Homo sapiens: one gene and its partners. The protein of the gene in region 4 interacts with the protein of the main gene of each other region in a biochemical or structural test. Each region holds a gene or a part of one and is shown on either strand. Other genes may lie near its edges. The genes, in order: PDLIM1, PARD3B, PTPN3, GOT1L1, PDZRN3, RHPN1 and DLG3.

The links.
Region 1: the proteins of GOT1L1 (region 4) and PDLIM1 interact in a test that uses a peptide from one of them, tested with the Homo sapiens proteins (one large-scale study listed by IntAct).
Region 2: the proteins of GOT1L1 (region 4) and PARD3B interact in a test that uses a peptide from one of them, tested with the Homo sapiens proteins (one large-scale study listed by IntAct).
Region 3: the proteins of GOT1L1 (region 4) and PTPN3 interact in a test that uses a peptide from one of them, tested with the Homo sapiens proteins (one large-scale study listed by IntAct).
Region 5: the proteins of GOT1L1 (region 4) and PDZRN3 interact in a test that uses a peptide from one of them, tested with the Homo sapiens proteins (one large-scale study listed by IntAct).
Region 6: the proteins of GOT1L1 (region 4) and RHPN1 interact in a test that uses a peptide from one of them, tested with the Homo sapiens proteins (one large-scale study listed by IntAct).
Region 7: the proteins of GOT1L1 (region 4) and DLG3 interact in a test that uses a peptide from one of them, tested with the Homo sapiens proteins (one large-scale study listed by IntAct).

The regions. Positions count from the first base shown.
Region 1 is NC_000010.11:95,270,462-95,274,431, reverse strand, and holds part of PDLIM1 (PDZ and LIM domain protein 1), read left to right. Parts: intron 1-2,647; coding exon 2,648-2,799; intron 2,800-3,970. UniProt on the Homo sapiens protein: Cytoskeletal protein that may act as an adapter that brings other proteins (like kinases) to the cytoskeleton. Involved in assembly, disassembly and directioning of stress fibers in fibroblasts.
Region 2 is NC_000002.12:205,115,236-205,119,205, reverse strand, and holds part of PARD3B (partitioning defective 3 homolog B), read right to left. Parts: intron 286-3,970; coding exon 160-285; intron 1-159. UniProt on the Homo sapiens protein: Putative adapter protein involved in asymmetrical cell division and cell polarization processes. May play a role in the formation of epithelial tight junctions.
Region 3 is NC_000009.12:109,403,910-109,407,879, reverse strand, and holds part of PTPN3 (tyrosine-protein phosphatase non-receptor type 3), read left to right. Parts: intron 1-1,261; coding exon 1,262-1,418; intron 1,419-3,271; coding exon 3,272-3,432; intron 3,433-3,970.
Region 4 is NC_000008.11:37,936,955-37,941,643, reverse strand, and holds the start of GOT1L1 (putative aspartate aminotransferase, cytoplasmic 2), read left to right. Parts: upstream 1-1,519; 5' UTR 1,520-1,614; coding exon 1,615-1,729; intron 1,730-2,762; coding exon 2,763-2,944; intron 2,945-3,894; coding exon 3,895-4,006; intron 4,007-4,257; coding exon 4,258-4,367; intron 4,368-4,586; coding exon 4,587-4,679; intron 4,680-4,689.
Region 5 is NC_000003.12:73,387,281-73,391,250, forward strand, and holds part of PDZRN3 (E3 ubiquitin-protein ligase PDZRN3), read right to left. Parts: intron 3,837-3,970; coding exon 3,738-3,836; intron 2,599-3,737; coding exon 2,536-2,598; intron 790-2,535; coding exon 688-789; intron 1-687. UniProt on the Homo sapiens protein: E3 ubiquitin-protein ligase. Plays an important role in regulating the surface level of MUSK on myotubes. Mediates the ubiquitination of MUSK, promoting its endocytosis and lysosomal degradation. Might contribute to terminal myogenic differentiation.
Region 6 is NC_000008.11:143,374,989-143,378,958, forward strand, and holds part of RHPN1 (rhophilin-1), read left to right. Parts: intron 1-564; coding exon 565-680; intron 681-1,536; coding exon 1,537-1,665; intron 1,666-2,391; coding exon 2,392-2,467; intron 2,468-3,280; coding exon 3,281-3,358; intron 3,359-3,707; coding exon 3,708-3,832; intron 3,833-3,923; coding exon 3,924-3,970. UniProt on the Homo sapiens protein: Has no enzymatic activity. May serve as a target for Rho, and interact with some cytoskeletal component upon Rho binding or relay a Rho signal to other molecules.
Region 7 is NC_000023.11:70,493,255-70,497,224, reverse strand, and holds part of DLG3 (disks large homolog 3), read right to left. Parts: intron 3,850-3,970; coding exon of another isoform or gene 3,750-3,849; intron 1,818-3,749; coding exon 1,772-1,817; intron 46-1,771; coding exon of another isoform or gene 4-45; intron 1-3. UniProt on the Homo sapiens protein: Required for learning most likely through its role in synaptic plasticity following NMDA receptor signaling.

The DNA of each region.
Region 1 (3,970 bases), on a different chromosome or scaffold from region 4:
ATCCCAGCTACTCAGGAGGCTGAGACAGGAGAATCGCTTGAACCCGGGAGGTGGAGGTTGCAGTGAGCCGAGACTGCGCCACTGTACACCAACCTGGTCAACAAGAGCGAAACTCCGTCTCAAAAAAAAAAAAAAAAAGGATGACTGTGGGGGTATAGCTTAGATTGGAGGTGAAGGAAGGCCTCTTTGAGAAGAAGGGTTGTTTACACAGACACTTGGAAGATGAGAAGTTAATCAGGCAGAGGTAAAGGCAGGTGTGAAAGTCCTGAGGCCCTGTAGCTGGAGCCCAGTGGGGAAGAGGCATGATGTGGGTGGGGAGGGAGGCACTGGCTTTAGCGGCCTTGTTAAAGATTTTGGATTTCATCCTAAGGGGACTGCTCTTTGAAACTGCTAGATTTAGCTATGATAAATGAGTTCCATAAGGCATTATTCTCCTTGATTCAGGCTGCTCTCCTTGGAGTTAGAGTTTGTCAGTCAAGAACGCTTGCCAATCCCAAATAAAATGATGCTTAGAGCCGTTTAAAAACTGAGCCTGCGTTGTCCTTTAGTAACAGTGAAGTGTGTATGAAGATGCACCAGATCAGTCTTCTCAGGACAACAGGTCAGAAAACGGAGGAATTTTTTTTTATTGCATGCACTGGATGACTCAGAAGCTAACTCTCATTGTTGACTGAAATGAGAGCGGCCTGTGCTTGCCTGGATAAAAAGTCCTGTCCCAGTGGCTGGATGAGGGGACGATCTGAACCTTGAATCAGGAGGCTGCTTTCGTTTCCTAAAACCCAGATCTCTGGTAAACAAATGATGGGAGAGCCAGAAAGGAAGGTTAGGAGGTCAGGATCTCGGTACTGGTTTCCACATCCTGCCACATTCCAGGAGAGTTTTGCCTGATAAAGTCATAGCATGTGCGGGCCAGAAGGGACCTCAAGGATCAACTTGTCCTCATTTTTTGGGGTCAGGGTGCTGATGGGGAATGCACCATAATAGCGGCACCACACTAGCTGCGCTGAGGGCTAATCGGAAACTGTAGCTGCTGAAAACTGCATCAGATACTGAGGTTTAGGACCCAACTTGTGTGTCCTGGTTTGGTGCCTTGAAGAACCTGTTACCTGTGGTTCAGCCATAAGGAGACACCCAGGTGTTCATAAGATCTTCCTCAACTGGATCCCGAGAGTCAAGGGCCTTCTCCAAAGGGTGGCCAGAGCCCTGTGGGCACTGGGAGCCTGGGGGTGTTACTGCCACCTTGATCCTGCGGACTTGGAATTCCCATCCAGGAAGGTCTTGTAATGTGGAAAAAAAAAGTTGTGAACTTACCCTGGGATGATGACAGTAATATTTTTAGTATACCTTAGTTTAGAAAATCTAACCAGATACCTTGGTTAGAGATAGTACTCTGAGGTGAGTACTATTTCAAAATGAGTTTGGATCTTGTTCATTCTAATAGCATCTGTATTCACTTGAAAAATGGTTGTACATCAGTGTAGGAGATGTGATATGTATTGAGTCCGCATGTATTGCTCTGTAGGCAGGTGAATTTAAGGACCTATTGCAGTAATTGATTGGCTTCCCCCAAGCATCAATGATCTGTCAATTTGGAACCACTGGTTTTAGAAGCATCAGTCTGCAGAAAACCAGCCGTCTATAGGGAATGACCCTAGTCATTTTGGGAGATTAAACCAGTATAAACCTATACTACCATACTTTAGGATATCCTTGATTGCTTTTAACAATTTTTTTTTAAATTTTTATTTTATTATTATTATTATTTTTTGAGACGAAATCTCACTCTGTTGCCCAGGCTGGAGTACAGAGGCATGATCTTGGCTCACTGCAACCTCCACCTTCTGGGTTCAAGTGATCCTCCTGCCTCAGCCTCCTGAATAGCTGAGATCACACCCGGCTAATTTTTTTGTATTTTTGTTAGAGACAGGGTTTCACCATGCTGGCCAGGCTGGTCTCAAACTCGTGGCCTCAGGTGATCCGCCTGCCTTGGCCTCCCAAAGTGCTGGGATTACAGGCATGAGCCACCATGCCTGGTCAACAATTTTTTAAATTAAAAAGTAATTCAATATTATTGTAAAAAACATTGCAAAACTGTATAACTGTGAACAATTTAGTGTGCAGTGTTTCCACTTTCTTTTGTATATATAACATTATTAAGATTTTTAAAGAAATAGGGTATTATAGTATATAATGTTCTCTAAATGTGTGTGTGTGTGTTTTTTTAAATGTAATTGTTAACTAATTTTAAGGAAGCAAACGTGGTTCAGTGGGAAGGACATCAGATCTGTTCGGGGTTTGTTTCCTGGCTCAGTAATACACTAGTTGGAGGACCAGTAATATAATAATATACTAGTTGGGTGATCCTGGGTAAGTCATAGGTCTTTCTAAGCCTCAGATCCTGGTCTTGGAAATGGGGACTGCTATTTGTCCTCCTTTCTCATAAGGTTGCTATAGGGATACAATGAGATCATATTAGAAAAGCCCTCTTTGTCAATGATAATATAAATGATTGTTATTATTTAAGCTATGATTTCAGCCCTCTTTTCTTTTTCAGGGCTTTGCTCCATATCAGTGAATACTTAACTTGGTGGTAACTTAGTGGTTTGGAGACAAATAGTAACTAGCCTGCTTTCCCCTTTTTTTCTAGGTCACTCCTGGAAGCAAGGCGGCTCTAGCTAATTTATGTATTGGAGATGTAATCACAGCCATTGATGGGGAAAATACTAGCAATATGACACACTTGGAAGCTCAGAACAGAATCAAAGGCTGCACAGACAACTTGACTCTCACTGTAGCCAGGTGAAGCCTATGGAAACGTTTTGTTCATTTCTGATTGACTAGAAGCTGTTTGTGGGCAGGGACTGCCTTCCCTATCTCAGAATCCCCCAGACCTCCTAGCTCAGTGCCATGTATATACTATAGGCATGCCAAAAGGTCTGTGGAATTTGAACTTCAGATTGCTTATTTCCCCTCTATTTTTTTTTTTTTTTTTTTTGAGACGGAGTCTCACTCTGTTGCCCAGGCTGGAGTGCAGTGGTGCAATCTCAGCTCACTGCAACCTCTGCCTCCCGGGTTCAAGTGACTCTCCTGCCTTAGCCTCCTGAGTAGCTGGGATTACAGATGTGCACCACCACACCCAGCAAATTTTTGTATTTTTAGTAGAGATGGGGTTTCACCATGTTGGCCAGGCTGGCCTCGAACTCCTGACCTCAGGTGATCCACCTGCCTTGGCCTCCCAAAGTGCTAGGATTACAGGTGTGAGCCACCGTGCCCAGCCCCCCTCTGATTTTCACGGTGCTTATGATGTGGGCTTCTTTCAGTAAGATACTTGCATTTTCACTTGATCCAACTCAACCAAAATTTTGAGTAAGTAAAATGTCCTGGCCAGGTGCGGTGGCTCTCTTTGTAATCCCAGCACTTTGGGAGGCCGAGGCAGACAAATCACTTGAGGTCTGGAGTTTGAGACCAGCCTGGCCAACATGGTGAAACCCTATCTCCACTAAAAATTAAAAAATTAGCCAGGTGTGGTAGCGTGCACCTGTAGTTCCAGCTACTCGGGAGGCCGAGGCAGGAGAATCACTTGAACCCAGGAGGCAGAGTTTGCAGTGAGCTGAGATGGCGTCACTGCACTCCAGCCTGGGCGACAGAGCGAAACTCCATCTCAAAAAAAAAAATGTCCTTAGGATGCTGCTGCTACTGCATTGTGCTGAGCAGTGGGTACCATGCCAGGAGATTGCAATAACAGAGAAAAACTTGAACACATTAGCAGCAGAGTACTGAGTGTAACTTTAGGTACATGACAAGCAAGGAGCGCTGGGGATAAAAGAATGAATGAGGGTAGCACCTTGGGAGCTGTAATTAGGGTAGAATTTCCATTCTTCTTTCATTTAGCCTTGGAAGGGGTCCCGCAAAGGCAGGATTTCGGAAGTGATTTGGTTCAACCCTCAGTTGGCTCCCTGTTTCCTACTGC
Region 2 (3,970 bases), on a different chromosome or scaffold from region 4:
AGGCTAAAACATTAGAAGCATTCGAAAATGGATATCCTGGATCGTTCAAAGGGAACTGACTAGAAATTCTACCTACTATTTTGATCATAATGAGTTCAGTAATGCTTATAACCATGCTAGGGATCAAGAAAGTAAATAAAACAATGAAAAAATGCTTACTGAGCAAAGGTTTTGTCTACGAGATCCACATTGTTGATTTTTACAATACATTCATTTTCGTGAAATAGTCCCTCCCGCTTGGACCTGCTGTTGTCTTCAATGCCTCGGATGAAGAGTCCTAGAATCCTAAATGCAAAATTTAGATTGAAATATAATTACTGAATAATAAATGCTAATTATTTCTCCACTTGCAACTATTCAGAAATACATATTGATTTCTATTTACAAAAGAAATTTTACTTTATATTCAGGCAACTGTTTGTTATTTTAATCCCTAATCCAAAAAAAGCCAAAACTGACTACAAGAGAAAAAGCCCTTCTAGATAAATATGCATAAGTACCAACATCAATCTGCGACTTCATTTCTCATGCTTGCAGTAAACTTATTGAAAGGCTAGTTTACTGGAGTTGACACCAAAGACTTGTGGTTTGGAGAAGGGCATCACACCTGACTATAGTAAGTCTGAGTTAGTGCCAACGTGGCAACGTGATGTTTAGCAGTGGGAGAGCATTAGGATATTCACAGTAACATTTTTGCAGTCTTACTACCTATTCTAAAAATTTGCATTTTAAGAAGTAAAGAAACATTTAAGCTCAGATCATATTACTCAGTTTAGAAGGAAGCTGGATCCCATTTGTTGGTGCTACCAAATCAAGTATGTGTTGGGTGTTTCCTGTGTGATCAGGATGGAGGAGTATGAGACAAAGTCATAGGACCAGGACCAGGTAATTTCACTATACATTTGGGGGACAGCTGAAGTCCAAAAACTAAAGACATTAACAAGCCTAGAGCCTTCAAAGATTTGAGAGCTAACTAGATGGGAGACCAGTGCCACACACAAAGGCTTTGAACAAACAGCCAATGAACTTAATCTGATGGACCTGGAGGGGGGCATCTAGCAGACCCCGCTTCCGAGTAGGGCAGCGACATGATGAAGGCAGGCTTTGGGAAGAGTTGTCCAAAATTTCAACCAAGAAGAGGCTAAATTAGAGAGGATACAAAGAGGCCTCTGGATTTTTGTGGCTGTAGCTTAGAATCAGGAGGGTTGGAAGAGAAGGAAAGAAGAAAGAAAACTATAGCCACTAGAATTAAAATATGTGTGTGTGTATGTGTGTGTGTGTGTGTGTGTACACACATACATACACAATTCTGTTACATATATAAACCAAAACTAAACCAAAAACCGTAAGAAATGGAACTTATACATATTTTCATTATTTCTTATTTGTGGGATTTCCCTTCTCCTCGTGATGTGACAAGGCTTAGCTGTGTCCAGAGTAAGAAAGATAGATATGTCCTGCAAGAGGAGTCTGCTACATTTGGAGAAACTGTGATCTGCACTTTATCAATACTCTTGCTTTTCGACTTTGTCACTCTCTTTTGTATAAAATCCATGTGTGCTATTACAAAATACCTTCACATTAAATTTCAAACCTAAATAAAACATGAGTACATTTTATGTGTAAATAACAGGGTCAGCCATAGAAAAGGGGAATCTACAATGCAAGTATTAGAGAAAGTAGTCCTCCTGTTTGGAGTGGCCACGGAGTTGAACCTCTGTCCCCTTAATGAGCTCCCATCATCTCAAGACCTCAACAGGCATGGCAGTGATATTTGGGTCTCACTTCAAAATGTTAAATGAATACAGCACGCTGCTGCAGGAGAAAGAACAGCAAACAGCCATGCCATCTACTGCAGGGAAGGCTCAGGGTCATAGGCACAAGTGTGCAGTGGGGTCTTGTGGTTCATTTCCTAGTTCCAGTAGGTTAGCAAATTAGTCATATTCTGTGTTACTTTAATCTTGAAACACAGTATTAAAAATGAAACTATTTGACACATTAAAATAATAGATAAAACTTATGGGTTTTTTCCCTAAATTAAACAGCATCCTAAGAGTTCACATTTTGGATTTTTGTTAGGGTGGATTCACAATAACTTGATTCATTAGGAGGCTCACATGTGGTTATAAACGTGTTTATGTAAGTGATATTTTTTTAACAAGCATTCAAGTCTTCCTTTAATTTAATTCAGTACATCATCAGTCATGTAATGTTACTCCCTAGGATTTAATTTCACATTTTGGGAGATGAATTAATTCTTTCGGGCCACTGGGTTGCAATTTAGCTGGCATATTACAGCTGGAGTATGCTATGTGAACCTCACTGATCTAAATAATCTAACTTTCCATGAAAAATTTATTGACAGAATAAGCCCAACTGTAAAACCCATGTGTCAGAGGTAATTTTGGTAAAATGTAAAACTGACTGATTTTATTAGTTTGGTCCCTGGCAACAAACCACTTCTGCCCTCTCTGCTCCGTGGAAGGGATAGATTCCCTCCAGTTTGATTTCATCCAGACCAATACAAGAAGGCTCAGAAAACAATACCTCATTATCCTCTTTGCCCTGAACTGGTGGGCTGTGGTAGCTGTCTCATTTGGGACCAAGACTCGCAGAATTTAAAGATTAATGCTGTCGAGGAGTTATAGGCCGAGACTAACCAGTTAATTTGCATTAATGAACAGTGATAAAGGATGCTGAAATCCACAGCCTCACAGAATTAGAGGGGTAACAATTCTTCTTGCTCTTCTAATTATCATTTAGGCACCAACATCTTCTCCTTGCCCCCTTCCTGTTCTTTTCCCAATGTCACACAGCCTCAGTGACTCTACCAGCTTAGAATTTTGGTTTGAACATCTCTTCTCACAGTCTTTATCAGCCTTCATCCAGTCCTTCTCCTTCTCTCTCCTGTTTAGCTGTCTTCCCTATGAAACTGAGGCATATTATGCATCTGTACTGAAACGAATTAGATTTCATGTTTTTAATTCACAAAAACCACATTGATTTTAAAAATCTGAATAAAATTAAGTTGCATTTTAGTTGCAAGAACTTTGGTGTTTTTTTTATGTTTGCTTTGTTTTTACTGGGAAAGCCAATGGCCCTCAATACAAGCAGCATTCAGCACCCCTCTGCGATGGTATCTAATGAATTCATTGAGGCTTTATCTAGCAGAGCAGCCACTATAATTTACTTATTAGGATGATCTAACTTAGATTAGGTTTCTTATTCAACAACAGGTGTGGCAACATTTTTCTAAAAGAAAAAAAAATAAAAAAATACATTGGAGGCAAAGCCAATTACAGTAATCTTAGTAAAAAAATTAAATGTAAATTCTAATTTAAAATAATGGCACAAACCAATAAATGGAAGGAAATTAAGAGCAAAGTATACCACTATGACCTTAACGAAGCCCCTGTGCTCACACAGTGAAACCATATGGCATTATGAAGTCAGACACTTGTCTGACATGCTCTATACACAGTTGCATCTAGACACATGGGTTGAGTTAAGCGTGCTGTTTCAGCCTGTACTCATTACTCCTTAACTTTTATTGGCTCATGTCTCCACTTCCATAGCATTTTTAATGTTTTTTAATTAAATTTCCTTCCTATAATACTGGTGGATAGCAAAAAATAAATAATAGAACTATTTCACCAAGTTACTGAACAGTTAACCATGAACTTATAATAAAACTACATTTCTGAATCAGGCTTTTTGGTTTTAGCCAAAATAATCATCAGACTGATGATTTACACGTTCATACATTAGGTGTTTTACAAGGAACTTTCACATTTTTAATGTTATTTAATCCCCATAACCTTGATGTAAAGTAGGTACTCAAAAGGGGCAAGTTTAGGGGACTTGCTCAAGGTTATAAAAAAGAACACTGGGATTCAAATCCAGTTGTTCTGAAACCACGTCCAATACTCTTCCTTCTATTCTACAAGGCTTGTGCTAGGAATCAGAACCA
Region 3 (3,970 bases), on a different chromosome or scaffold from region 4:
GTTTTTCTTTCAAATTTATTTTATTGTTTTTAGGCCAGGCATAGTGGCTCACACCTGTAATCCCAGCACTTTGGGAGGCCGAGGAGGGTGAATCACTTGAGGCCAGGAGTTTGAGACCAACCTGCCTGGCCAACAGGGTGAAACCCATCTCTACAAAAAATACAAAAATTATCTGGGTGTGGTGGCACACAGGTGTGATCCCAGCTACTCAGGAGGCTGAGGCAGGAGAATTCCTTGAACCCAGGAGGCAGAGGTTGCAGTGAGCTGAGATCACGCCGCTGTACTCCAGCCTGAGCGACAGAGTGAGACTCTGTCTCAAAAATAAAATAAATTTATTTTATTGTTTTTAAAATAATATCAAGTAATTTTTTCGTTTAATTTTTTTATTGTGCATACTCAAGGTGTACAACATGATGTCTTGTTATACATATAGTACTGCAGTCAAACAAATTAACATGTTCATCACTTTCCATAGTTAACCTATTTTTCTTTTTTAAGAGACAGGGTCTCGCTCTTGCTCTGTCACCCAGGCTGGAATGCAGTGGTATGATCACTGCAGCCTCAAACTAGGCTCAAGCGATCCTCCTGCCTCTGCCTCCCAAGTCGCTGAGACCACAGGTGTGTCCCACCTCACCTGGCTCCATAGTTACCTTTTAATCATCTGCTTTTTTAAAGCAGTAGGAGTCACTGTGCCTCCTTACAGTGAACCACGTTGGGATTTTACTCTGAGGTAGTCCTTAAGCTCTTGTCATTTAACTTTTGTTACTGTTTACAGTTTCTGTAAATTCAGAAGGCTTTCTTTCCTGTGCTGTTCAATTCATTGCTTCTCTCCATAATGGTTTTTGCCTCTGTTGTGAAGCTTACAAAAGCTTTCACCTTTGCAAGACAGATAAATACTCACCTCTAGCTGGCAAATCATTTCCTAACAGTACATCTAGGAAACAAAAGGCTGGAAATGGTATAGTTATATTATAATAAGTGAAGGTTGACTACCACGGAGAAATGGCTTCAGCAATTTTTATATCCTTATTCTGAAATGTTTCATAACTTATATTCTGAGCAGTACTTCTTTATATCTTACAACCATCTACCATGTCCACATAGCAGTGGATGCATTATACAAATAATGACAGTACTACCCGAGGGAGAGAAGGCAAACTTGATCATGGTCCCAGGTGTCTGGGAGCAGAGCGAGTCAGCGTTCTTCCCCCAAGGACTGTGTTATGGTAACAGGAGAAACTCGCTTTTCCCCACCACCCAGGCGGACACCTGCATTCCTAAGCTGAACGAAGGGGATCAAATCGTGTTAATCAATGGCCGGGACATCTCAGAACACACGCATGACCAAGTGGTGATGTTCATCAAAGCCAGCCGGGAGTCCCACTCACGGGAGCTGGCCCTGGTGATCAGGAGGAGAGGTAATGGCCACCTGGGGGGAGGAGCCATAGGGAAGCTGTCCTAGCCAAGCTGCGCCTGCTCCAGCCCTTTATCTGCTCTTGAAAATGTTGAGTTTGTAGCCAACATTTGAAAATCAAGAATCTTCAGGTAATAACCGAATGTTTGGCTTCTCACTTGAAAAATGTGAAGATCTGCCCCCAGGAGGCCTGTCCCCATGTGGCCAGTCTTCTGGGGGGAGACAGCGCCCCTGCAGCCCCTTTATACAGGACATGAGCCCCCAGCTCCCAGTTCCTCCCAGGCCCAGCGCAGCCCACATCACGCACTCTCTAAGTGGCATGACTCTGCAGACATTTGCATTTTCAGCCCCTTCTTAAAGGATCTGGTGATATTTTATTCGTGCGTGTTTGATTTTGTCGGGGAGGCAGTGAGGAGAGCAGGGTCTGACTGTCTCGGGTGATTCCTCACTCTGCCTCTGCGGGCTGGGGGACCTTGCAGGGGTTACATAACCAGTCTGTGGTTCAGCTGGCTCAGGTGTGGAGGAGGACAGCAGTGGTCCCGACTTCACAGGGTTGCTGTGAAGATTAAATGGCACTTGGGGCCAGGCACAGTGGCTCACACCTGTAATCCCAGCACTTTGGAAGGCCAAGGTGGGTGTATCACTTGAGGTCAGGAGTTCAAGACCAGCTTGACCAACATGGTAAAACCTCATCTCTGCTAAAAATACAATAGCCAGGCATGGTGCCATGTGGGTATAGTCCCAGCTACTCAGGAGGCTGAGGCAGGAGAATCGCTTGAACCCAGGAAGTGGATGTTGCAGTGAGCTAAGACTGTGCCACTACACTCCAGCCTGGGTGACAGAGTGAGACTCCATCTCAATCATTCAATCAATCAATGGCACTTAGACTGGAAAGTACCTGCATTGCTGCCTGATGGGAGCAGAGGTTTGAAGGACAGCCTCTACTGAGCATCACACTGTTGTCTTTATAGTTGTTGTTATAAAATAATACGTCAAGTTCCTTGAACACCGTGCACAGCTGTAAAATACTGAAAGTAAATGAAGGTTGTGTCTGCAAAGCCCTGCGTCTCTGCCTGCCTCACACGTTTGGCTGACACTCCATACTGCTGTGCTCCTGCCTCGGCTCTGCTCCCACTGCAACTCTCAGTCCAGAGCCACCAGGACCAGCTCTGACCCCACCTCCTCCGTGAGGCCTTACCAGATCTCTCCGGTTCCCCACCTGTGCAAGGTTGGGAGTTGTGGGGGGGTGGTCCTAGCTTTGCTTTCACCTGTATTGAATTTAACATGAAGGGAAAACGTGCACTAAAGAGGTAAGGCTGAAGCACAGAAGAGATGCTAGGACTACGATATTTACGTGGGAGCCTCCCACATAGAAACGGCCCTGAGTTAGGGATTGAGCTCTCAGGAATGATGGTGTCACAGGAAAAGCTTGGGACCTCACCCTCATGCCTGAGGAAATGCCCATTTTAGGGAAGTAAATGAAAAAACCTGAGAAAGAAAGGGGAGTCGGGATGGGTAGAAGAATAACCCGGTCAGAAAGAGCAAGCAGAAACAATATGCTTTTTTAAATAACATTCTTTCTCTTTTCTTTACCTTTGACAAAAGCCTCTGAGTGTTAAACACCATTATTTAAAACTAACCAGGAAGATTAGTATGTCATTTTATGTAATTAACACATATTGAATCATTCACCTAGAAGTAGTATCTTTGGTGAAAATGATTACCATGTAGCTTAATCATTTAATAAGATGTTTTGAACCATCTGCATTCAGGTGTCATAGGTGTGATTTGTTTGAGGGAGACGGATAAACCTGAGTATTGCTACACAAGTCAGATGCACTGTCTTGTACGTTACAGCTGTCCGCTCATTTGCTGACTTCAAGTCTGAAGATGAACTGAACCAGCTTTTCCCCGAAGCCATTTTCCCCATGTGTCCGGAGGGTGGGGACACTTTGGAGGGATCCATGGCACAGCTAAAGAAGGGCCTCGAAAGCGGGACGGTGCTGATCCAGTTTGAGGTAAGACCCTCTGGAGGCTGAATCCCACTGCCATGTCGCCTATTGGGCTGCCCCTGCCTCTGAGCAGTGGAGGAAATGAGGCAGAGACACAAGCCCTTGTTTCCTTGGTCGAGATGATTGTGTGTTTCACAAACCAAAAGCAGTCAACTGAGTCTCTGAGGACTGACAGGGCGAGGCCTGTGCTTGTCGTGGATAACAGGGCACAGCAGGCAGCCCCCTTCTCAGGCTCGGAGCAGCAAGCAGGGATCAGGGTGGCCACCCTCGCTGAACTCTGTCTCACCCTCTTATTCTAGTAACATTTGGTAGTCATGGAGAAACATGCCAGAAACTGAGGAGGAGGGACTCTGAGTGTATTTAACTGCCAACACAAAAGCTCAAAACTCCCAGCAGTGGAAGGCAGTGGAGAGGTGGCTGTGGGTGAAGGAACCAGCTCTCTGACCACCCCCAGCCATGTGCTGGAATTTGGAGCAATTAGTGTTATCCCATGAGGGCATAGTGTCTCGCCCTCCCAAGTTGCCCAGAACCCTATAAACACAAG
Region 4 (4,689 bases):
CAGCGAAGCAGCAGCTGGGGCCGGGCACATTGGTGGTGAAGGCCTTCTGGGTGAGACATCAACAGTGTTTGCAACAATCATTTAAAGAGTTATTTAACATCAGGCTGGGTGTGGTGGCTCATGCCTGTAATCCTAACACTTTGGGAGGCTGAGGTAGGCAGATCACTTGAGGTCAGGAGTTTGAGACCAGTCTGGCCAACGTGGTGAAACCCTGTCTCTACTAAAAATACAAAAAAAAGCCGGGCGCAGTGACTCACGCCTGTAATCCCAGCACTTTGGGAGGCCCAGGTGGGCAGATCACCTGAGGTCTGGAGTTTGAGACCAGCCTGATCAACATGGAGAAATCCCCCTCTCTACTAAAAATACAAAATTAGTTGGGTGTGGTGGCGCATGCCTGTAATCCCAGCTACTCGGGAGGCTGAGGCAGGAGAATCTCTTGAACCTGGGAAGCAGAGGTTGCAGTGAGCCGAGATCACACCACTGCACTCCAATGTGGGCAGCAAGAGCGAGACTCTGTCTCAAAAAAAAAAAAAAAAAAAAAGAGAGAGTCATTAAACATCAAAAGGAAAAGAAAGCAAGCAATATGCAGACTGACTCTATAGAGGCTGGCTCTTTTCTCCCCTTGGCCTCTGCTGTCTATACTTACTAGTTGGCTGTCATTGAAACTTAACAAATGGCCAGGTGTGGTGGCTCATGCCTGTAATCCCAGCAGTTTGGGAGGCCAAGGCAGGCAGATCACCTGAGGCAAGGAGTTCGAGACTATCGACAAAGTGAGACTCCATCTCAAAAAAAAAAAAAACCAAAAAAAGAAAGAAAAAGAAACTTAACAAACATATGTAGAAGTCTTGGCTCTAGATAACTGAGAGAAATAGGACTGGCTTAGTGAGTTGCCAATTATATTCTAATAATAGGATTCTTTATTAAAACAACTGTGGAAGAAAACAGTGTTTGCTTTTTATTCCTTTTGAAATCTGGGGCACTTTGCAAAATGGAAATCAATGCCTCGACTTGCATTGGTGTGTGATCTGGGGTTTTTGCTTCTGCAGGAGAAGCCCTATCTGGCTTATTGGCTGCCTGCCTTGCCCTATGTCTTTCTTTCTTTTTTTTTTTTTTAATTTGTATAAATGTGTGAAGTACAAGTGTAATTTTGTTAGATGCATACATCGCATAGTGGTGAAGTCAGGGCTTTTAGGGTATCCATAACCCCAACAATGTACATTGTATCTGTTAAGTAATCTCCCATTATCCTTGCCCTGTCATCTAAGGAGTGGGCTTGTTACTTTGGACTGAGCCACCTGGGGCTAGAGAAGAGAAGGCATTGAGTGAGGGAAACGGGCTTGGGAATTCCGGAGATTGTTATCCTGCCCTGCCCGCTGTCTGAGGGGATTCTCCTCAAGTACCCTGGAATGTTCCTGTGGCCCCTGTGGATCGCCACCACAAAGATCATGAGGTTCTGTTGCCCTGGCAACCCGTTGTCCAGCGCCTCTGCACTGGGGCTGCCAAGGTTCCAGGAAGAGGCAGGACTGCCCGGCCCAGCCTTGGAGGAAGACTTCTGGGCAGAAGCGGAACACAGGAGCAGAGACACATAGTCTTGGCTCCAGTTTCGTTTCAGTTATGCCCACCCTTTCAGTGTTCATGGATGTGCCCCTCGCCCACAAGCTAGAGGGCAGCTTGTTAAAGACCTACAAACAAGATGATTACCCGAACAAGATATTCTTAGCCTATAGAGGTAGATGCCTAGCAGTTCTGAAGTATAAGACTTAAGTGATGGTAACTGCCTCTAGGAGGACAGTGTTCCCTGCTGCAGGGGGAGGGGTGCAGCCCAAGCTTCTGTGGGTGGAGAGATCTTTTCTTGTTAACAGAATTACCCAGTGGGGAAAAGTGCAGATAAGGTCCCAGGTCATTCCATGCTCTCTGCCCTTCTCTGGGGGCTTCTAGGGATTTGGTGAGAGCTATGTCCTCTTCCACAACTCTATGCTTGGGGGCCTGCATGGCCATCCCACACTTCTTCAGATTCTTACCTCCTCTCTCTCTCTTTCTCTTTCTCTTCCTGTTCTTGAACCAAGAATGGTTCTCCAGATTGAGCTTTCTGCTATGCAACTGGGGCTCACCACTGTGAAAGTCAGGGTTACCTTTATTTAGCTTCATCTACCTATAACTCTCATTTTGCATATATATATATATATATATATATATATATATATATATATATTTTTTTTTTTTTTTTCTTGAGACAGGGCCTCACTCTGTTGCCCAGGCTGAAGTGCAGTGGCAAGATCTCAGCTCACTGCCACCTTTGCCTCCTGGGCTCAAACCATCCTCTTGCCTCAGCCTCCTGAGTAGCTGGGACTACAGGCGCTGGTCACCATGTCTGGCTGTTTTGTATTTTTTTGTAGAGACAGGGTTTCATCATGTTGCCCAGGCTGATCTTGAACTCCTGAACTCAAGTGATCCACCCACCTTAGCCTCCCGAAGTGCTGGGATTACAGGCCTGAGCCACCAATCCTGGGCTTGTATAATTTTTAACCTTTAAAATGGCATAGGTTTCAGTTGTCTTTTTTAAAAAGACAAAAATAATACACATTCACTAACAGCATATTCTTTTCATCAAGGAGAAAAGAAAAGGGAAAGTTGTATTTTCACAGGCACCTTCCCACAGCCCCATGGAGTCCAGGAGAGATTTGTTTGCAGGCTGTCTGCAGAGCTCAGCCCTGGGGGCCCAAACCAGGCATCTGGAGCTCCCTCTGTGGTTTTCCTCACAGTCTGCATGACAAATGAAGGCCATCCCTGGGTTTCTCTCGTGGTGCAGAAGACTCGACTACAGATTTCACAGGATCCCTCCCTGAATTATGAGTACTTGCCCACCATGGGCCTGAAATCATTCATCCAGGCCTCTCTAGCACTCCTCTTTGGAAAGCACAGCCAAGCCATTGTGGAGAACAGGGTGAGAAGGTGGGCCCTCCCCTGGCTCATTTAGACACAGAGAGTGGCGATCTGGGTCTGCACAACCTTAAACCCGAAGGGGACCTCGGAGGGCCCCCTGGTATTGATAAAAGAGATACCTGAGGCTCAGAGAGTCCACAAGTCCTTAGCCATCGAGTCAGGATCGGAATCTCAGTCCAGTGGTATTCCCACCTGCTCACACTGCTGATTTGAAAGCTCTTTCAAGACAGGAATGATCTGAATTGGAGGTGGTGTTAGTATTCCCATTACTGTTTTATTTTTTAACCTATTATATATATTTTTTGAGACAGAGTCTCACTCTGTCACCCAGGCTAGAGTGCAGTGGTGCCATCTCAGCTCACTGCAACCTCCACCTCCCAGGTTCAAGCAATTCTGGTGCTGCATCCTCCTGAGTAGCTGGAATCACAGGCATGTGCCATCACGCCCAGCTAATTTTTGTATTTTTTGTAGAGACAGGGTTTCACCATGTTGGCCAGGCTGGTCTCAAACTCCTGGCCTCAGGGGATTCCCTGCCTCGTCCTCCCAAAGTGCTGGGATTACAGGCATGAGCTACTGCGTCTCGCCTCCATTACTGTTTTAGAGTGTTATTTCTGTCTATTTCTTTTTATTTTTTAATGTTTATTTACTTATTATTTTTTTGAGACGGAGTCTCACTCTGTCACCCAGACTGGAGTGCAGTGGCCTGATCTCCGCTCACTGCAACTTCCGCCTTCCGGGTTCAAGTGATTCTCCTGCCTCAGCCTCTTGAGTAGCGGGGATTACACATGCCCAACACCACATCCGGCTAATTTTTGTATTTTTAGTAGATACGGGGTTTCAACATGTTGGCCATGACCTCGAGTGATCCACCCACCCCAGCCTCCCAAAGTGCTGGAATTACAGGTGTGAGCCACCACACCTGGCCTATTTGTGTCTATGTCTTGCTGGCAGGTAGGGGGTGTACACACTGTTGGTGACAGTGGTGCCTTCCAGCTTGGCGTCCAGTTTCTCAGAGCTTGGCATAAGGATGCTCGTATAGTTTACATCATCTCTTCTCAAAAAGGTTAGTCTTACCCAAGATGAGGGGAACAGCAATCCCCGTCCCTTGTTCCTAATCCTCACCCCATTTGCCATCTTCACTGTTATCCCTCATTCTCTGTCATGAGCAAAATGGCAGACAAGCCAAGCTATTTATGTCCTTTTCCTGTTAATGTCCCACCTTCAGCCAGTGACTCTCAGCCCCACACTCCAGTACCTCTGTCTCCGTCTCTCTGTTTCCCATGTACCAGCTAGTGGGGGGCTGTGTTCCCACAGAACTGCATGGACTCGTCTTCCAGGACATGGGCTTTACAGTTTATGAATACTCTGTCTGGGACCCCAAGAAGCTATGCATGGACCCCGACATACTCCTCAATGTGGTGGAGGTAGAGGGGCCCCGCTCAGAAACTCCTCCCTAGAGCTGACTTACAGCCTAATGTTCCTCTCCTCCCCACACCTCTTAAGTCATCCAAGACCTTTTCCAGGTTTGAATTTGCCTGGCCCTTCAATGGTAACTAACATGGAGGAGCACTTCACCCCCAAATGCCCTGGGGCCGCCACTCCTGGGTGGGGGTGAAGCCTGATGAGACCGTCTGTACCTGCAGCAGATCCCACATGGCTGTGTCCTTGTGATGGGGAACATTATCGACTGCAAGTTGACACCAAGTGGGTGGGCAAAGTTGATGTCCATGATAAAGGTAAACCCAA
Region 5 (3,970 bases), on a different chromosome or scaffold from region 4:
TGTGTTGCTGGAGCCATTCTAAGTGGATCAAGAGTGCCACCTGGGTGAGTTCATGATTCCTCCTGTGGAAGGAGTTATTACAACACAGAGGTTTCTGAATCAGATTACTTGGGCCTGAACCCCTCCCTGCTTTATCACCCTCCTTCTGGGCCTTTCCTGGGTAACTTTTGAATCTCTGGGAACTTCCATCTCCTGGGAAGGCTCTCCTGTGTGTAAAGTGCTCCACGGAGGGCCTAGCACTTATTCGGTGGTCATATCAGTTTTAATTATTTATCATTCAATGTTTCTTTTAATTTGAAAGAGCAAGTTTTAATTCCCCATACTCTGCTATTGTAAATGAAACCTGCACAGATCAAGGCTGGAACATATGTCAGGCCTTGGGAAGTCAAATGTCTTGACGTGACCCCGGTTGTGTTTTCCATTCAATTCTGTTTCCTTTTCCTTCCCTATGATCCCTGCATTAATGAACGTCGTGGGCCTGCAGTATAGATGCCAGGGTGGGCATCTAACCAACCTTAAATGGCTAACTCATAAAGTGAATTCTGAATCACAGCAAGTTTGATTACATTTCCAGGGAACAAAGCACCTTCAAGTTCGCAGCCAATACTCAGGTGCTCTTTTGCAGGCCTGGGGATCTTTTGATTTTAGAAATATAGACCCAGTTTCATCTGTAGGAAGCCAATTTACCTGGAGTTCAGGCCTTGCAATCAGCAATGAAAAGTTTTTATTTTCTTCACTGGTTAGAAGAGCCACAGCCTCTTCACGGTTCTGCACCTCTATCCCATTAATCTTTTAAAAAAAAAGGGGGGGTGGGGAGAGTGGGGAGACAAATAGCATGATTAGATGGTGCAAAATCATTCTATTTTATTTCAGACCTGCATTTGTCACCCACTCACAGTTAGAACATACAACTTCCGTGTAGCTGGAAAAGAATACTGATGTTAGGAAGGAAAGGTCTTGCTCAGACCAATGCAGTTTCTCTGGTCTATAAGGGAGCCTCCATGAGTATAGTTCATGAGGTGACTGTGATGTGTGGGGTGTGAACAGAAGGGGCTGGACCTCCAGAAGACGGCACTGAGAAAAATCATAATGCTCTGCAGAGGGAACATGGAAGCAATTAGACATAATATTCAGGCAGGAGTATATGTAGACATTATTGGATAATATAGAAGAAAAAGCAGCAAACTGAGGTTAAGAAAATGGAATAGAATTATACATGGTGTTTTGTGTCCCCAGTTTGACACTTAAACTTCTTTGGGCCAGGCGGAGGGTCAAGTGGGCGTGACACTCTCACTATCACACTTGATTAACCCTCTTGCAGGATTTTTGCTTGCATGTCCTGGTGACTTTGAGCCCTGCTGGTCTGGAGGTCTTAGTCCTGGTGGAACGCCGCCTCCAGGGGACACAGCAATGGTTCCACTGAATTGGAAGTGGAGGCTTCCATATGCCTCCTTACACTAGTGAGCCAACAGGCAGCAAAAGGGGTGACTCTATTGGTTGGAGTGATTGCCCTCAATTACCAAGGAAGATGGGCTTGCTGTGACACAGTGGAGGCAGGGAGGATTGTGTCTGGAACCTAGGGGATTCCTTGGAGTACCTCTGAGTGCTTCCATTCTCAGTAGTAAAGGTTAATGGAAAACTCCAGCAATCAAAAAAAAAAAAAAAAAAAAAAAAAAGAGGCAGTATGCTGAGGACCCTGACCCTTCAGGTGTGAAGGTTTGGGTCACTTCCCTAGGGCAAGCGATCCTGAGCAGCACAGGTTCTGGCTGAAGGCTAGAGAAACCCAGAGTAGGCAGTGGAAGAAGAAAATCAAAATGACCTGTGGTGAGGTATGCAATGAGAAAAACACAGTGGATTAAGAATGAGAGGATACGGATGAGAAGAGGTAGAAAGCTAAGCCTTGTGGACACAATGAAGCCAAGAATTTCAATTCTGTGAGATTAAAGAAGGTTGTAGCCAAAAGAGACATGAATGGTCTCATTTGGACTAGACGGAGCAACAGGGCTCGAGGTCAAGTAATGACCCTTAGAAGCGATTCCAGGATGGTTAGATGTTGAGTCAGAAAATTTCTAAGACTTTTCAATCGATGCTGCTAAATTTGCCAAAAATGTTCCCCTTTTATGGACGAGCCTCTGAAATGCTTGGTCCAAAGTTAATCTTTCAGAGAAATCTAAAACGAGAATTATTTTAGTTCACAAGTTGTAAACTGTTGGCCTGACTTTGGCTCACTGATGTTTGTTTTGATCCAAACAGAATGAAACAAAATAAGGAGAACTGGCTCAAATTTTGCAAGGCCCTCTTTGGAGAGAACATGCCCCATCTAGTTTGTCCCAGTCCTCACCACTCCCTCTTGCGTCTTATGACTCAGAGATAGCCTCACAATTAGTTTAACTTGTCTGGCCTCACTACACATCTGCGTTTGTGATCCCTGTTCTTTAACCGCTTCTGCATTTTCAACCCTAGACCTATCATTAGAACCAGTTTGTTCTTTAGTGATAGGCCCATCATGAGGCCATTGTTTGGAAGTGGACTTACCTGGATAATGCGGTCTCCTTCTCGGATGCGCCCATCCTTGGCTGCAATGCTGTTAGGGTCAATCTGAAACACACATGGACCATCTCAGCGCAAACGCAGACATGCATGAAAATAAGCAACAGCACTTTCAAAACCATTTCTAAAACACAGTCATGCTCACCCCTGTGTTTCTGTTTTGCACAGAAATAAACAAGACTTAGTGTCGTGCAAGGAGAGGCAAACATGAGCTGATCTGCTTCTAAGCCCTTTCTAGGGCTGGTTCTTGGATCCCTGTGTAGCAACCCTGTTACACAGCAGTGTGTGCAGGCTCTGCTGATCTGAGGAGGCACAGCTGACTTTTGTTGCATGCATGGTAATTAAAATCAAATCAATGATGTAGAACAGGTTAAAGGATACCCTTCATTATGTGGACTAGCAACTATACCTTATTTTATACCAAATACTTGTATTAAAATTTGGAAAATAACTTTAAAATTGAAATATAATTGGGACAAGGGGGACTGGTAAGGGGAGGGATGTCCCCAAATGCAGAAAGGATGGGTTAACTTAAGCTTGGTGAATGACATACAACCAAAGAGATAATTATTAAGTCTAGTAGATCATTCTGTAGCGACAAATTTTATTTCCTGACAAAATTGGGTTTCTGTGTTTGCAAGGATGGGTGTGCACTGTAAAGTTTCCATACTGAAATCAGTTGATTTGTATTATCTTCTCAAGGAAGATCAAAACAGCGTGCATCTATGTAGTTTGATAAGTACATACAAGTCACATTTAACTTATATGAAGTCAACTATATATACTCCACCAAGAGAAAAAAAAATGTGTGTGTGTGTGTGTGTGAGAGAGAGAGAGAGAGAGGCTTTAAAAAGTGTAAGTGATTCCATCCACCATTCCACTCAATGAACACGAGTTGGGAAATGTGAATCTGCTCTTCCCTTGGGGCTAAACACACAAAACCATGTAAACGGCTCCATTTTATGGCTGATTTGCAGGCTTCTCAAGGGTAATTTTGCCATAAGTACTGGCATTAGAACTTAACCTCCGTGGAAAGATGCAGCGCCATGGAGTGTGATGAGGGGGACAGAATAATTTGTGTCTTTCCAAAGAGATCTTGATGAGGTGGGTTAGGGTTGGTGAACATGAAAAAAAAAACCCTTTTGGTCTTGATACGATAGTTAGAAAAACAAAATCAGCCTTTGTACCTCACTGATATAAATCCCAATGTCGTCTTCATCGTCCGTCCGGTAGCACACAGTGAGGCCCAGCTTGTCCTGGCTGTTCATTCTGTAGAGGTCCACTTCCTAGACAAAGAAAGGCATTCCCAGTGAGACTCCAGCAGGCAATGCGAGTTGAGGGGATGTCAAATGCTTTAAAAATATTATCTTCAAATGAGGAACTGGATTTCTTTGCATTCAACTGTGTAGGGCCGGTTAAC
Region 6 (3,970 bases), about 110 Mb from region 4:
CCAAAGTCAGACCGCAGCCTCTGCACCAACCATCGGGGGCCAGTGGCCGCCCCCAGAGCCTCAGGGACCCTGTCCTTTGAGCCCACGCCTAAACCCACATGGGAATGATTTGGAGGCGTGGGTGAGTTGGATGGGAAAAAAATTGGGAGGGGCAAGGGGGGGATCCAGAATGAAATCCAGAAGCGCAGAAGGAAGGCTGTGAGGAGCAGTGGGCCGCCTCCTGCAGGGCTCCCGGAGCCCCTACTTGTCCAGGCTGCCTGGTGAGACCCTGGCTTCTGGTGTCCTTGGCAGGTGCCAGCCTCCCCCGCTGACCCCCATCACGAGTCAGCAGCTTACCCCACCGACCACGTCCTTCTGCATTGACTGCCTCCTGTCCTGCTCTGGCCAGGCCTGTGTTCACACTAGTTCTGTCCAGCCCCTCCCTGTGAGGCCAGCTCCAGCCCCAGCGCATGGTGACCATCCCGTTACCCATGGGCAGGATGCACTCCTCTCAGTGGCTGGCGAGGCGCAGCCTGGTGCGGGCGCCACGGGGTCGGGCTGTGATCGCCTGTGGCCTCCCTGCAGGGCTGTGACTCCCTGACGCAGATCCAGTGCGGCCAGCTGCAGAGCCGCAGGGCCCAGATTCACCAGCAGATTGACAAGGAGCTGCAGATGCGGACGGGCGCTGAGAACCTCTACAGGTCAGTGCTTGAGACTGCCCGGCCCCGGGAGCAGGGCCCACCTGGGTGAGGGGGGCAGGACAGCCACGCAGGCAGATGTCTGCCCCATGGCCGGGTCACAGAGACAGGTGCATGAGCAGCTGGGTCCTGGTGGGCACGTAGTACACGTGATGCTCAGCCATGACCCTCACAGACCTGCCTCCGTGGGCCTCTGTGCTGGGCTGGAGGTGCCAGGAAACCAGTGTCCCTGCCGGGTGTGCAGCTTGGGAAGCCCCAACAGTGCACGTGGGGGCTTCTCAGAAGAGGCATGGTTGAGGCTGAGCTGTGGCAGGTGATGGCGCGTCCCAAGGTTGGGGACCTGGGAGGGGGTGGAAGACCTGGGCTGCCTCTTCCTTAGAGCACACCGCCTGTGTGCCACACATGTGCGTGTGAGTGCCCCTCGGTCCCCTTAGCACCTGCTACCTCCCTGCCCCCATCCTGGCCTTCCCTGGGGACCTCCGGTCCCTTTGCCAGGCCCTGATGCAGGCACAGAGAGGTGTGTGGCTCTCACCCACCATCCAAGGAGTGATGTTTGAGTGCTGTCGAGGGCTGTATGAGCCCCAAAGAAAGCCGTGGTGCTGAGGGAGGTGCCCCCAGGCCAGAGTCGGAACATGCAGGTGCTGGGGTCGGGGTGATGAACTGTAGGGGGCATCACCTGTGAGCCCCCGGATCCCACTGCTGCCCCTGCCCCACCCATGGGGGGCAGACCCTGTCAGCGACGTCCTCTGCAGGGTGGGCTTGGAGCTTTGACAGGTCAGCTGGCAGGACGGCTGCAGTGGGCACGGGGCCTTTGGCTCTGCCTTGGGGCTGGGCTTTCAACTGCCGCGGCCTCCCTCAGAGCCACCAGCAACAACCGGGTGAGAGAGACGGTCGCCCTGGAGCTGAGCTACGTCAACTCCAACCTGCAGCTGCTGAAGGAGGAGCTGGAGGAGCTCAGCGGTGGCGTGGACCCTGGCCGGCATGGGAGGTGCGGGTGGGGGCCGGGACAGCACGTGCGTGTATGTGTGTGCACGTGTGCGTGTGTGTGTGCATGTGTGTGCACGCATGTGTGTCTCTGTGTGTATATGTGTGCATTGTCTGTGTGTGTGCGTGTGTGCATGTGTGTGCATGCATGTCTGTGCGCGTGTGTCTGTGTGCATGTGTCTGTGCATCTCTGTGTGTGTGCGTGTGTCTCTGTGTGTATATGTGTGTGCATGTGTGTGCATGCGTCTGTGTGCGCGTGTGTCTGTGTGTCTGCATGTGTCTGTGTGTGCATCTCTGTGCGTGTGTCTGTGTGCACGTGTCTGCGTGCGTGTGCATGTCTGCGTGTATGTGGGTGTGTGTTTGCCTCTATGTGTGCGTGTATGCACGTGTGTCTGTGTGTGTCTGTGTGTGCGCGTGTGTGTGTCTGCACGTGTGTGCATATATGTGTGTGCGTGCGCATGTGTGTCTGCATGTGTATGCACGCATGTGTTTGTGTGTGTGTGTGCGCGCGCATGTGTGTGTCTCTGTGTGTGTGTGTTTGCTTTTGGGGCGGTTTAGGACGGTGGGGGGTGGTGCACAGGTGCAAGGATGCCCCCCAGGACACAGGCGCACGTGCACACCCATGAGGGAGGGAGGCACCCTGTGCCACAGAGCCCTAGGAGTGGACCCCGGGCTGCCGTGGGCAGCAGGGTTTGGCCTTACAGTCTGAAGTCGATGCTTCTGGTTACAGCGAAGCTGTCACTGTCCCCATGATCCCCCTGGGCCTGAAGGAGACCAAGGAGCTGGACTGGTCTACACCGCTGAAGGTAGGTACTGGCCTCCAAGCTCTGAGATACACGGCCCTGCCCTGGGACCAAGGGGGTCTTGGAGGCTTTCTGGTCCAGCTGTCTGGTTGAACAGATAGGGAAACTGAGGCCCAGAGGGAGGGAGGCTTAAAAGGGACGCAAGGGACCTGGCAGAAATGGCCACAGGGACCCAGCCTCTGCTGCGTTCAGGGCCCCGCTGGTGCCTGCGCCCCAGGCCGGGGCTGATCCCATAGAGTGGGTGTGAACATGTGCCCTACCCTCGGATGGGCAATGCCCTAGGAGGATGGGGCCTGGAAGCCCCAGCCGGAGCACAGGGTACAGGCTCGCCCATGGAGGGCACCACTGGCTTGGGGCCACACACCCAGCACTGGCTCACGAGGGTCCTGGGGAGAGCTAGAACAGACTGGCACTGCCTGGCAGGGCCCCACGGGAGCCACTGACTGTGTTCCGTGTCCGAGTCACTGAGTGGCAGATGGCACCTGCCTCCCGGCCACGGGGATGAATAAGGAAACGCACGTAAAAGTAGCGCTGAGTCTCCAGGCCCCGCTTCTGTGATGGGGTGGGGAAACCCCAGGGCCACAGGGGCTCCGACCCGCATCAACCCACCAGGCCCCTCCATACACATTGGCCCCCAGCCCTTCTCTGGGGCTTCCACTGAGGGGCCCAGGGCCCCCACGCTGCATGGCAGCCAGCCTGCTCTGCGGCACAGACCCTCCCTCCACCATGAGTCTTTTCCCAAGGTGGGTTGGGAGACCTCAGGGAAGGAGGCCAGGCACAGGGGTACTGTGGATGCCAACACCTGCCCCCCATCAGGAGCTGATCTCAGTGCACTTTGGAGAGGACGGCGCCTCCTACGAGGCAGAAATCAGGGAGCTGGAGGCCCTGCGGCAGGTGTGTGGTTCCCCCGCCCACCCACCCTCCTGCAGCCCTGGGAGACACATGCGGAGGCTGAAGCTGAAGTCAGGAACAGACAGAGGAGCTCAGCGTAGACATCTCGAGGACGTGGGGAGACGGGCGCACCAGGGGCCCTGTGTGTCCAGACCCAGCCAGGGGGCGTGGAGGGGCTCCCAGGTGGCTCCGGTGCCGCATGCTGCTGGCCTTCGGGAGTCACGGCTGCCCAGGGCCCCACTGGCTTTGCCTCCCCGCCCCCCATGGTGCTGGTGCCCATGGGACTTCCCAGGGCAGTGTGTGTGAGTGGGGTGGGCCAGGGCGGTGGGGCCCAGTGGCTCCTGCCCTGCAGGCCATGCGGACCCCCAGCCGGAATGAGTCGGGCCTGGAGCTGCTCACAGCCTATTACAACCAGCTGTGCTTCCTGGATGCGCGCTTCCTCACCCCTGCCAGGAGCCTCGGGCTCTTCTTCCACTGGTAGGGGCTCTGCGGGCGGAGGCACCCTGGGGAGGGGAGGCCCAGCTGCGGGAACCGTGGGAACTCCACCCAGCCTGACCCAACACTGCAGGTACGACTCGCTTACTGGGGTCCCGGCCCAGCAGCGTGCCCTGGCCT
Region 7 (3,970 bases), on a different chromosome or scaffold from region 4:
TACTGGAACTGCTTTCGCTGTCACTGGTGTTGGATGTCACTCCCTCTGCAAGCCAACAAGAAAGAGACTCCAATTCAGAACACACCACTGAGAGGTCACATGCAGCACAAAACTCAAATGCTCCAGGAGCGAGACACTGAGCTGCCAACTGAGTCAGGCCACCAGAGGCCTGCCACATCCAGGCTACCAACTGGGAGGCACAGCTCCAATCCTGAGCCCCTGGCCCTCTCGTACTTGTCCCCAGAGCCCTCTTGGTCTGCCAAGTCCCTCCCTATGTACTACAAGCCATACTTCCTTCAGCAGCATCCTCTTCATCTGAATCAAATTGACCTGGATGGTTTCCAAATCGTATTTCAAAATGCATCTCCCAAGGCTAACAACAGGAAAGAAAAGACAGTGACAGGAGCAAAGAGAAGTCCAGGGACCAGTCTGCTCATGGGTGTCCCCCGCCCAACAGAGCCCCTGAAGTACAGAACCATGTGGCACTCCACAACTAAGAGGCCAAACGCTGGATGGGTTAAGCAGACACCAGGGAGCGCTGCTCTGACCATTCGGTGGGCTCCCCAGCCTTCCTGCCACCACTCCAAAGCAGGAGAGCCTGGCTTCAGTGGTGAGAGGGGAAGCATCTCCATCCACCACCAGACACATATGTCAAAACACAGACAACAAAACCAACAAAAACACCTTGAGGACAAGGCAGCCCTCCTGTCTCACACAGCTGGGATCTGCCCATCTCTTAGTGGTGAGGGAAAAGAAAGCTCAGGCGGAGGAGCAGCGCTCGTAGGAGGCACAAACAAAGCCCGCCCATCCAAGATGACACGCGAATGAAGATGAGACATGGACACACCAAACTATGGAGAGAGATGCTGCTCATTTCAGCCAAGACCACACTGTTCCAGACCATGATATGCTGTGGCCCCCCCACCCAGAAAGGACTGGCTGAGTTGCCACACATGGCTAGTTCCTGAACAATCCCCATGGGCAACTCCTTTGCCTTTGGTCTGTATTATTTATTGAAGGAGAGTATATGCTGATAGAACCCATTTGGTGTCTGTGCACCCTTGCACGCAGCAGGATGGCCACTAAGGCCTCATCATCTAGGTCTTTTTCATTTTCCACTCCAGGATTCTTTTCCAGAAAGGAAAATGAGGTTGGAGTTTTCCTGAGATAAAGCACTAACTATATATGGTCCATAAATGATGCTGAGGCCCCTAGCAGACCAGCTCAACCCCTTACAGGTGCTCTGTGGGAAGCCAAACAGTGGCTGTTTGCTGAGGCCCGGGATCTGCTGGGACATCTCAGATGCAGGTTGGGAAAAAGGGGTCACAGTACCCTTGCCCCTAGTTAGAGGACTGTTAACAGCTGCAATTCCTACACCCAATTCTTTAGCGTGGTATCACTGGGAGAAGAATCCAACCAGCAGGCACCCCTCCCTTCGACAATAGGCTAGAGATTAGCTGAGTGGTTACCTTGGAGAAACATTTCAAGCTTACTTCACTTCTAAGGTGGGATGCCATGCTCACGCCCTCCCACTTTGAGTAGCAAAAGGTAAACAAAGGCATGAATGATATGGACTTATTTGGGTACTAGGGATCCATAGCAAACATGTAACATATGGAGCCACATGCACTTCTTCCTGCTGTGATGTCAGAGTGCTCACAAACACTGCCCTCCCCTCACCCTTCACCCTCACCCATGTCCCCAATAGCCCCACCCCCACTATCTCCATTCATGCCACAAGTACAGTGAACGGTGTGTAAGTTGGACTTACTCAGGTTCTTTGCTCCATAATAATCGTCACTTAACCCCGGGAAGTCCTGATTTCACAGACAGCAAGGGCGGAGAGAGGACGACGGGGAGAAGAGGGGGGAAGGGGAAGGGATGGGAGGGAATGGAAGAGAGGGAGAGATTTGGGGAGAAGAGAAAAAATAGAGAAAAAGACAAGGGGGGAGGAAGAATACAGAGGTAGGTGAGCACTAGTGACAGAATTATGAAACACCATGAAGACCTAGCACTATAGTGAGGCCAGGAACTTTGCCACAGAAAGAACATCCCAGGGCAGATAAGACATCAAGACTTCATGCTGCCCAATTCATTGCCAGAGGGCCTTGGAGTAGACTAGCTTTCTGAGGTGTCTACAGCTGTAGGCCAATGGGACAGGACAGGTGACACTCCAAGGCTTAGAGCACCTGCTTTGACTAAATTTTGGTTGTGGAGCCCAGGTCTCTGTTTGCCCCTGAAATCACCATTTCCCTCTGCAGTGCGTGAAAGAGCAAATGTCCGCGTGTGCCAGGTAGGCAGATAGAATTGCCATCACCTCAAGAAGCCTTTGCCCAATACTGATTCACTCTGTTCAAACCCTTCAGGAAAAGTTTCGCATGGTGTAGAGTGTGGCCTCCAAAGCTGCCCTGAGCTGGACAGATCTTGGGGGATGAGCTCAGCTTCTGGAGAAGCACTAGGCACCTTCAACTCTGTCATCCAGTAGATACCCCCTCGCCCACCAGGCGGGACCACTGAGCAATGAACACCTCCCCAGGCTGGGCTTGGCATGGAGGGACTCTGGGACTCATCTGATGAAACTATGGTGACATCACCTCAGGCCTCTGACTCAGACTGTCTCCTAACTGCTCATGAGCAGAGCCACCCCGTCTATGGCTTCTCATTGAACTACTCCAGGATGATGAGCCGTGGCTGCCATCTAGATGAGGGCACCCTTCTGTCCACCAGGTACCACCCCAGATAGCAATGACTTACACATACCATGACTGTGGACCAAGCTGGCCTGACAGAAGGACATTTCCTATCAGAACCAGTCAGTCTCCTGCCAGCCCCAATAGACCAAGACCCCAAGATCCCTCCATGTAAGACAGAGGAGTCACTGGTAAATGAGAGATGTTTACTGTTCATGATGAGACAAGTGAGAAGACATTTTTCAAGCCAGACCTGGTGTTTAAGGTTAAGGTTGGAGCAGTTAATTGCTGAGGCACACGGTAGAGCAAGAAGATTTATCAGGATTAAATTTCTTCTTCCGTTGAATTTAGCTCAGTGTGACTGCTCTTCCTACCGAACCAACTTTGTGTTTCTCAATAGATCTTTATTTGAACAATGTGGAGCAACACTCCTTCCATGTCAACTCATTTAAGCAGGAAGGATTCTCCTGGGAAAACTGGCTCTGTAGGCACTCTAGGATGACAGCGAGTCTGCTGAGAGTTGTGTGGATATCCTGTATGCTTATGCACGTGCATGGGATTCCAGAAGTAGCCCCAACTCCAGGGATCCTGGGAAGAAAAGGCTCTTCTCTTGACATACATGAGTGAAGTTAAGGGAAAGAAAACACAAGAGGAAGAAACCAGGAGAGCAACACTGAGTCCCTAGACCTTGTTCTCTTGAAAAACCATTTTCCTGACCCTGACAGTCTAGCTAAAAAACCGTTCCTCACCACCACAGCAGAGCTCTGTCTGGCACTTCCACTGCTAGTGCCAGGCACTTCCTGGAGGCTGACCCTGGGACCAGTCCCACCTCAGTGCCTCCAACATTCATTCTAACTGAGGAGCAGGACAAATAAAACCCAACATCTCCTTAGGCAGACCAGTTTCTGCCCTGACTCTGTAGATAAGCAGGTGCACACGCACACAGGCAGGCACGAGGCCACACGTGGCCCTGCCCAGGCTTCTCTCGAGGGAAGGGCAACTGAGGATGAGAGGATGGGGCTGCAGATGGCCTGCTCTCTGGACTCTGCTGCTACTTACGTTCCTGTATGCTGCTCTCCTGGGCCATGTTTTCTTTGCTCTTGTAAAATGGAAACTTTCGAGAGAGGCGGAAACTCTTTTTACGTTTCGTTTTGATCGACTGTGAAAGAACATGAAGATGGAGGGGAAGGACAGAAGAAAAAAAAAAACAGAACAATGGATTTTAAAGCATGCAAGAAAAACTAAAATGGAGACAACGGTGAGCTAAATAAAAGACCATC